Linked DNA regions of Homo sapiens. The gene in region 2 interacts genetically with the main gene of each other region. Each region holds a gene or a part of one and is shown on either strand. Other genes may lie near its edges.

Region 1 (3,662 bases), about 64 Mb from region 2:
TCACCTGAGGTCAGGAGTTGGAGACCAGCCTGGCCAAAATGGTGAGACCCTGTCTCTACTAAAAATACAAAAATTTGCAGGGCGTGGTGGTGCATGCCTGTAGTCCCAGCTACTTGGGAGGCTGAGGCAGGAGAATAACTCGAACCTGGGAGGTATAGGTTGCAGTGAGCCGAGATTGCTCCACTATACTCCAGCCTGGGCGACAAAACAAGACTCCATCTCAAAAAAGAAAAAAAATATATATATATATTTTCAACAAAATCAATTTCTTAAAAAAATTCTTAGGCTTTTAAAGAGAAAATCCACTATATTCTTTTCCCTAAGATATAAAGATGCATATTAGAAACTTTAACTGGAATTTCAGGGTATTCTCTTGTTAGAATAAAAAGATATAAAGATAGAGGCAATGATTTTTTTAAAAAAGACAGCAATTACTTTTAAGTGATCCAGTTAACTTTTAAGTGATCTAAAGATACTATATGAAGATATGGCTTTAATGTACAGTACTGATGGGATAAATGACCTTCGTATGATATACGTTAAATATCTTTCTTTTCCTACTTCCATATGAAAACATGAATAAGTGAATAAATAAACTACAAGAAAACTGCAAATGCAGGGCTATGAAAAAGAGGGATAACGTGCTAAAAATGAAAGACTACTAAAAATACATATGCCATAGGTCCTTTAAACTTTTAAAAATAGTATTTGGGTTTTCTTCTGATTATAAAAGTGATACAAAATGATCAATATAGAAAATTCCAATAATATGGGAAAATATAAAAAAGCAAACAAAAATCATCCATTATTTTGTTGGCCAGAGATCACTACTTGTAACATTCTGGCAGAAAACAAATCTTTCAGGTTTTTTTCTATGTATGCACATGCACAGAGTTTATTTTTAAGAAAAATCTGGGATATTCTTTTGTACCAATTTTATTCTACTTCAATTATAAATACATTCCTATGGCATTAAATATTATTCTATAATTTTTAACTCGTAAAATATTTCACCCTCAAGATTAACAGAATTTAACCATTCCTGTGTTTGTTTCTACTCTTGTATAAGTAACACTCATAAATAAATCTATGTACATATCTAATTATTTAGGAGAAATTTGTAGAAATATACTTGCTGGAACAAAGAAAAAAACTTTATAAAGTTCTTGATATATAAAGTGTCCTGCAGAAAGACTGTATAATTTATACTCCTATTGGAAGTACATGTTAATGCTTATTTCCTAAATTCATCATCAATACTTTAATCTTCACTAATAAGAATCACATTTCATTTTAATTTACATTTCCTTAATTATCATTAAGCCTAAATATCTTTTCTTGTGTGATTACTTTTCCTTTGCTTCTTCATTTATGAACTGCCTATTTTGCCTAATTCTCTACTTTTATGAATTATCTAATTTACTATTTGTGATAGTCATTATTTTTCTTACGAGTTTGTAAGAGGTCTTTACATATTAAAGATATTAAGTCTCTATTTGTCATATGTGTTATAAATATTATTTTCGATATATTACTGCAACTGATTTTTTAAATTCTTTTTTTTTTTTTAAAGATTGGGAGTCAAGTAAAATTCTTTTTTTTCTTTTCTCCCTCAGGTCTATTGAAGAAGTATAAATGACAAATTAAAATTGTGTATATACACACACACACACACACACACACACGTATACACACACATATATATATACGATGTACGACATATTGTTTTTATGTATACACTGTGAAATGATTACCACCATCAAGTGAATTAACTTATCTATCACCTCACATAAGTATTTTATTTTTTGTGGTAAGAACATTTAAGATAACGCTCTTAGAAATCTTTGGGTATACATTATTAACAGTAATTACCATGTTCTACCATTAGACCTCCAGAACTTACTCATCCTAACGGAAACTTTGTACCCTTTAACCAGCAACTCCCTGTTCCCCACCACAACCCCTACTCCTGCAATCACCATTCTACTATTTCCATGAGTTCAACTTGTTTAGAGTCCACCTACAAGTGACACCATGCAATATTTATCCTTCTGCGCTTGGCTTATTTCACTTAGCATAATGTGAGTCTCTTTTCTTCATATAGGTTTTTATTCCATTTAAAGTTCAATTTGGTATTTAAGATTAAAAAAAAAAAACCACCTAACTTTCTATTTTCTAAAAAGTCAATAAATTTTACCAGCATCACAAATTGAACAGGGAATCCTTTCTCTAATTATGTGAAATGCCATATTCATCATTAATGAAATATGTACATATTATGTATTGGAATTTGTTTCTGGACTTTATATTCTGTTCCATTACTGAGTCTATTTTTGAAATAGCATCACAATTTTAATTACTCTGTCTTATTAATAAACATGTAAGTATCTAATGGTAGAGTGTTCTTTATTGTTTTTCCCAACAATTCCTCAGCTATTCTTTAAGCTTTATTCTCTCTAATGTACTTTAGAATCATTTTTGAAGTGAAAAAATAAATCAGTGGTTTTTAATATATTCACAGAATTGTGCAACCATTGCTCTTATCTAATTTCTAATGTTTTCACCACCCCCACAAAACCCCATTCCTATTAGAAGTTACATCCCATTCCCTCCTCCCCAGCCTCTGGCACCCACTAACCTGCTTTGCCTATTCTGAACATGTTATATAAATGAAATCATACAATATGTGGCCTTGAATCTGACTGCTTTCAATCAGCATGTTTTCAAGGTTCATCCACGTTATAGCATGTATCAGTATTTCCTTCCTTTTTTATGGCCAATGTTCTATTGCATGGATACGCCACATTTTGTTTTCCATTCCTCAGGTGAGGTATTATTTTTTGGCTATTATAAATAATATGGCTATTAATGTTCTCATACAAGATTTGGTATGGAATGTGTTTTCACTTCTCTTGGGTATATACCTAGGAGCAGAATTACAGGGTCATATATGGTAATGCATGTTTTTCTCCAAGAATATGATATATATTAACTATAGTTTTATTAATATATAGTGATTCTATGTTTAATTATTTGAGGAAATGCCAAACTGCTTTCCACAGTGGCTGTACCATTTTACATTCTTACCAGCCATAAATAAGAGTTTCAGTTTCTCCACATCCTAACCAACATTTGTTATTGTCCGTATTTTGGTGTGAAGTGGTATCTCACTCCCTGTGGTTTTGCTTTGCATTTCCCTAATAGTAAAGATGGTGAATATCTTTTCATGTCCTTATTGGTGGTGTGGGTAGGTTTTTTGGAGAAATGACTATATGTGCTTTTTTTATGTGAAACTTGTAATTTGCCAGTAGTAATAAACTGCCTGACTGTGAATCTTTCCTGCCACACTACCCTCAAATATAAAAATATTTTAAAATTTACTTAAATGTTTATTTAAGCATGCAGACATCAGAGAGAACATAAAATAGAAAATTAGTGTCATAATTCCACCCTATACTACTTTTAATCAATCTTTATTCTTTAACCTTTTTCTGACTAGAAAACAAATATATGCTTTTATAAAAAATACAAGAAAAAAATCTATAGCATTGTTGTGTGTATGTATTACTATCTGTTCAGCATTTACCATGTGCCAAGCACTGTTTCAAACACTTTAAAGTATTTGCTGTCTCATTCAATGCTAATAAATACATTAAAAATTA
Region 2 (3,662 bases):
AGGCAAACCTCCCTTTTTTTTCTTCCTTTTCTGCTGATCTTCAACAATTTACTTAACTCAGTTTCCTCACTTGTAAAATACAAATGATATGCCTATCTGCAGAGTCACTGGGAGAAATAAATGAAATGACTTAAAGTATATGTATGCTATCTGGCATGTAGTAGGAGTTTAATAAATTATAGTTTACATACACCAGAAGAGTACTTGCCTCGCTTTTCCTTGTATGGTACTTTTTAATCTTATTATTAAACTAACCCCTGTGGTGGTGTGGCTACATTCTTTGAGTTTAGAAAACGAGATAAAGAATTGCTCATATCTTCCCAAATTGTGTAGTATAAAAAGAATGCTGTCCTGGTTGTTTTTTGTAGAATATGGAAGTCCCTGCAGTAAGTAGGCAACATGCTACCCTTCTATTCAACACAGCACTAGAACAAGGCAAGTGGGACCTTTGTCGACACATGATTCGATTTCTTAAAGCCATTGGCTCTGGAGAATCTGAGACACCTCCATCCACACCCACAGCTCAGGTTAGTTGCAAAAGTTACACATCTTCTCTAGGCCATACACCCACGTAGCATCTTTCTCTAATGGTACTGCATATGGTGTGTAATCCTAGGAACCCAGTTCAAGTGGTGGATTTGAGTTCTTCAGGAATCGAAGCATCAGTTTATCCCAGTCAGCTGAAAATGTTCCTGCCAGTAAATTCAGTTTACAGAAAACACTAAGTATGCCATCTGGTCCCTCTGGAAAAAGGTAAAATAATAAAGAGCCATTACTGCTTTTTGGGCATTCATGACACATTGCATTTCAAGACATTTACAAAATTAGGTCTTAATGGAAACAACTATTTAATCCAATTGCAGTTTCTTTTTCCATTCCCAAAAAGCAGAGGCCACACAGAAGGCTTCCCTTTTTCCTTCCTCCCAAGTTCACTTCAGCACCCTCTGAATAGTTTCTGCCCCTTTTTCTGGAATAGATCTTCATGTACCTGTTCTGAATGTAACAAACTTGTTTAAGACAGAGTCTCACTCTGTCACCCAGGCTGGAATGCAGTGGCACCATCTCAGCTCACTGCAACCTCCGCCTTACAGGTTCAAGCGATTATCCTGCCTCAGCCACCCAAGTAGCTGGGATTACAGGCATATGCCACCACACTCGGCTAATTTTCATATTTTTAGTAGAGACGGGGTTTCAACATGTTGCCCAGGCTAGTCTCGAACTCCTGGCCTCAAGGATCCACCTGCCTCTGCTTCCCAAAGGGCCGGGATTACAAGCGTGAGCCACCCTACCTGGCCAAATGCTACAAACTTTTTTTTCCCATAAGTTACTGGGGTCCAGGTGGTATTTGGTTACATTAATAAGTTATTTAGTGGTGATTTGTGAGATTTTGGTGCACCCATCACCCAAGCAGTATACACTGCACCATATTTGTTGTCTTTTATCCCTCACCCCCTCCCAGCCTTTCCCCCAAGTCCCCAAAGTCCATTGTATCATTCTTATGCCTTTGCGTCCTCATGGTTTAGCTCCCACATATCAGTGAGAACATACTACATTTGGTTTTCCATTCCTGAGTTACTTCACTTAGAATAATACTCTCCAATCTCATCAGGTCACTGCAAATGCTGTTAATTCATTCCTTTTTATGGCTGAGTAGTATTCCATCATATATACGTATATACAAGTTTCTTTATCCACTCGTTGACTGATGGGCATTTGGGTTGGTTCCACGATTTTGCAGTTGTGAACTGTGCTGCTATAAACGTGTGTGCAAGTATCTTTTTTGAATGACTTCTTTTCCTCTGGGTAGAACCCCAGTAGTGAGATTGCTGGATCAAATGGTAGTTCTACTTTTGGTTATTGAGGGAATCTCCACCCTGTTTTCCATAGCAGCTGTACTAGTTTACATTCCCACCGGCAGTGTAGAAGTGTTCCCTGATGGCCACATCCATGCCAACATCTACTGTTTTTTGATTATGGTCATTCTTGCAGGAGTAAGGTGGCATTGCGTTGTGGTTTTGATTTGAAAATGCAACAAACTTTTAAATTACCTCTGATGATAGAGGACCAAAAGGAAGATAGATAAATCTGTAGGTAATCCAAAAGCCTTCTTAAAGTCGTAATTTTACCTTTCCTTCTAATTATACTTTTTGATATAAATTTAGTGCTAATGCATTTGACACTCTTGTGACCTATTGATTAGAGAAGTTATTACACAGTCGGGGAGCCAAATGAATTGTATGCTGGAGACTGAAACTGCTATCACCCATAGATGGGATATTGTCTTCTGAGAGATGACTATGAATTCACACTAACATTATAAAATCATGAGAATTTCCTCTGGTTTGTGAGGCCTGTGTATTCCTTCCTATGTTCTTCTGTTGTTGTCTCATTTTTTTCCTTACCTAATCCTTTGTTTTATATTGTTCATATTCTCTTTTTTTTTTTTTCCCCAGGACAACATGAACATATGTTTATATTCTTACTACCGTGCTTGGGCACATAGTGAGAGCTTATTGAACGTTTGTTATTGTCATGTTTTACTGGGTTTTTTTGTTTTTTGAGATGGAGTTTCGCTCTTGTTGCCCAGGCTGGAGTGCAATGGCTTGATCTCGGCTCATCGCAATCTCCGCCTCCCAGGTTCAAGTGATTCTTCTGCCTCAGCCTCCCAAGTAGCTGGGATTACAGGCATGCACCACCACGCCTGGCTCATTTTGTATTTTTAGTAGAGACGGGGTTTCTCCGTATTGGTCAGGCTAGTCTCAAACTCCCGACCTCAGGTGATCCGCCTGCCTCTGCCTCCCAAAGTGCTGGGATTACAGGCATGAGCCACCATGCCCAGCCTGTTTTACTGTTTTTTAACAAGTGCTTACTACATGCCAGGCCTTATTCTAAGCATTTACATACATAGGTCCTATTTTAAACAACTCTATGAGGGTTATCCACATTGTATAGGTGAAGAAACAGAGGCCTAGGAAAATAAACTTAGTTATGTTCACACAACAAATGAGTGGCAGAGCCAAGATCCGAATCCAGGCAGTACTGCACCAGAGACTAGGCTCTTTACCCCACCACTAAACTGCCTCTCACTTAAAGCACCACATTATCCAGTTACCAAACCAGTTCCCCCACATTAGCTCATGTAAGTCAGGAATGAGAGACTATACTTAGGCAAGTTGTAATTTTTAAAAATTGGTTTCAGGACTGGCAAGGTGGCTAACACCTGTAATTCCAGCACTTTGGGAGGCCAAGGTGGGAGGATTGCTTGAGGCCAGGAGTTCAAGATGAGTCTGGGCAACACAGCAAGATCCCATCCTTGCAAAAATAAAAATACATTGGCTAGGCATGGTGGCAAGTACCTGTAGTCCCAGCTACTTGGGAGGCTGAGGTGGGGAAGATAGCTTGAGCCCAGGAGTTTGAGGTTGCAGTGAGCTATGATCACACCACTGCACTCCAGACTGGGTGACATTGTGAAACCTTGTCATTTAAGAAAAAAAAAGTTGGTATTCTTTTCATATGTCTGCATGACTCACACTGAGAAATTTAATTTCACTTTGCCTCTCTATCCTTAGTTTCTTTGATGTGCTCTCCTTCCCTCTTTTCATTGGGCTTTTCAAATATAGCATAGAGGTTTGCTGCCTTTCTTTCTGTCAGCCACCCATCAC
Region 3 (2,336 bases), on a different chromosome or scaffold from region 2:
TTTTTTTTTTTTTCGAATTTTAGAAAGCTTGTCTGAAATGTTGCGTGATAAGCCTTCTCCTCCTGTAGGTTTCAGCCAACATTTAGTCTTCCCTGTCTGTCTCTTGGGACTTAAGAGAAACCTGCAGTAAACCCAACCTCAGCGGAAAACTGCCTTATGTCAGGCCCTGTGACTGGGGGCCGATTGCCTGGCAGTGCCTAACGTGAGCCCCAGCCTAGTGGGGCCCTCAGAGCCGGTGTGATCCATTGTTGGTGTTGCCTGCGGGTGACAGTTCATTTCAGCAGCTGCCTTGCCCTTTGCAGGGTGTGGAACGTCCGCTACAACCACTCTCATGACCAGCTGGTCCTCACGGGCAGCAGTGACAGCAGAGTCATCCTTTCCAACATGGTGTCCATCTCGTCGGAGCCCTTCGGCCACTTGGTAGACGACGATGACATCAGTGACCAGGAGGACCACCGTTCTGAAGAGAAGTAAGGGCACGCACTGCAGAGTGGCTCACGCTGTACCAGAGCCTCCTGTCTGCACAGCCATCTCCCGAGCCAGGCTGTGTATGTAGAAAGTTTCCAGGAGTGCATTTGGGGGACACTCTCCTTACCCACTGCAGCTGTGGGGACTCACAGTTCCAGGGGTGCCGTCATTAGCAGCCCAGGTGGGAGGCACTGCAGGTGCGTTAGGGTTAGGTGCGGTTTTAAAATAGATCTATTTGTGTTTGTATTCTTATTGAATGCCATCTGTAAGATTTAAAAGACTCACTGGTCTTCAAACTTGAGCATGAATAATAATAGAACGAATATATCCCAATCCTCACAGCACTCCCTGTAAGAGACGCATCACAGTCAGTGTCTTCACTGGCGTGGATTTGAGCGTGTTGGGGTCGGGTTGTTGGCCATCAGCTCACGGGCCTTCCACTGGCTGGTAGCAGGGCGGAGACTCCAGGCCAACCTTCCCAGTCTCAAACCCGGGTCCTACTTCACTTCTAGATACTCTACAAAATGTGGTCAACCATGATGTGGGTTTTCTAGTCACACCATCATGGTTCTGGATTTTCCCAAAGCTTTTTCCTATGCACCTTGATTTCTGATCCTAGGTGAGATGGGAGATCGCTAAGGGCAGCCTCTTCATGCCCGCCTCTGGTCAGCGGTGCAGTGCCAGGGCCCCTGTGTCCTTGAGCAGTCCACCTTTAGAAGTGGCAGCCGCTTCCTGGGGGGTGACTAGATGCAATTCAGTTGCAACCGCAGAGATTCTTGCCCCAGGTTCCAGAGGAAGGAGGTTCTGGAATAAAACCTTGTGAAGTTGGACAGAGCCCTTAGATACGATGGGGTCTGTCACTCTGTTTTGGGATCCTTTGCACTGTTTTTTGTCTGAATTCTCCCCCTACCCACCTGAGCTTGGTCTAAAATTCCTCTGTGAGAAGACCTCTTTCTTCAGACCCTCTCTGCAGTGGCGATGGGACCATCTGATTGTCTCTGTCTTCGGACCCTCTCTGCAGTGGGGATGGGCCCATCTGATTGTCTCTGTCTTCAGACCCTCTCTGCAGTGGCGATGGGCCCATCTGATTGTCTCTGTCTTCGGACCCTCTCTGCAGTGGCGATGGGCCCATCTGATTGTCTCTGTCTTCAGACCCTCTCTGCAGTGGCGATGGGCCCATCTGATTGTCTCTGTCTTCAGACCCTCTCTGCAGTGGCGATGGGCCCATCTGATTGTCTCTGTCTTTGGACCCTTTCTGCAGTGGCGATGGGCCCATCTGTTTGTCTCTTGACTCTGTTGCCTTTGTTTTGTTTTTGAGACAAACAAAAACAAACAAAAAAGTCACCCAAGCTGGTGTGCAGTGGCACGATCATGGCTCACTGCAGCCTTGACCTCCTGGGCTCAGGTGATCCTCTCACCTCAGCCTCTCAAGTAGCTGAGACAACAGGCCCATGGCACCATGTCTGGCTAACTTTTTGTAGAGACAGAGTTTTGCCATGTTGCCCAAGCTGGTCTCAAACTCCTGAGCTCAAGTGATCTGCCCACTTCAGCCTCCCAAAGTGCTAGGATTACAGGCATGAGCCAGACTCTGTTGTTTTTCTGTTCAAACCTTAGAAACTCGGTCTGCCATAGAATAGTATTTAAGCACACGCACGGTAGCATCTGCCCAGTGGTCTCTCGGTGCCTGTGGGCCTGGCTCCCTTTACCGTCCTCTCTGCCAGTGGCCCAGGGAGTCTGCACTTCCTCACCATGTCTGTCCCTGTTAGGGGAGGAGCCTGATGGGCCCGTTGGTCGGAAGACTGCTGGCGTTGTCTTCTGGGCGGCAATGTCATGGGAGCAAGATAGGAAGGGAGGAGGTGATCGGGGCT

What was found.
Region 1: changes in RIC1 (region 2) and PTAR1 are lethal when combined (synthetic lethality), as found in Homo sapiens cells (one study listed by BioGRID).
Region 3: changes in RIC1 (region 2) and EIPR1 are lethal when combined (synthetic lethality), as found in Homo sapiens cells (one study listed by BioGRID).

Annotation. Positions count from the first base shown.
Region 1 is NC_000009.12:69,725,368-69,729,029, forward strand, and holds part of PTAR1 (protein prenyltransferase alpha subunit repeat-containing protein 1), read right to left. Parts: intron 1-3,662.
Region 2 is NC_000009.12:5,765,046-5,768,707, forward strand, and holds part of RIC1 (guanine nucleotide exchange factor subunit RIC1), read left to right. Parts: intron 1-368; coding exon 369-527; intron 528-616; coding exon 617-753; intron 754-3,662. UniProt on the Homo sapiens protein: The RIC1-RGP1 complex acts as a guanine nucleotide exchange factor (GEF), which activates RAB6A by exchanging bound GDP for free GTP, and may thereby be required for efficient fusion of endosome-derived vesicles with the Golgi compartment.
Region 3 is NC_000002.12:3,190,548-3,192,883, reverse strand, and holds part of EIPR1 (EARP and GARP complex-interacting protein 1), read left to right. Parts: intron 1-302; coding exon 303-470; intron 471-2,336. UniProt on the Homo sapiens protein: Acts as a component of endosomal retrieval machinery that is involved in protein transport from early endosomes to either recycling endosomes or the trans-Golgi network.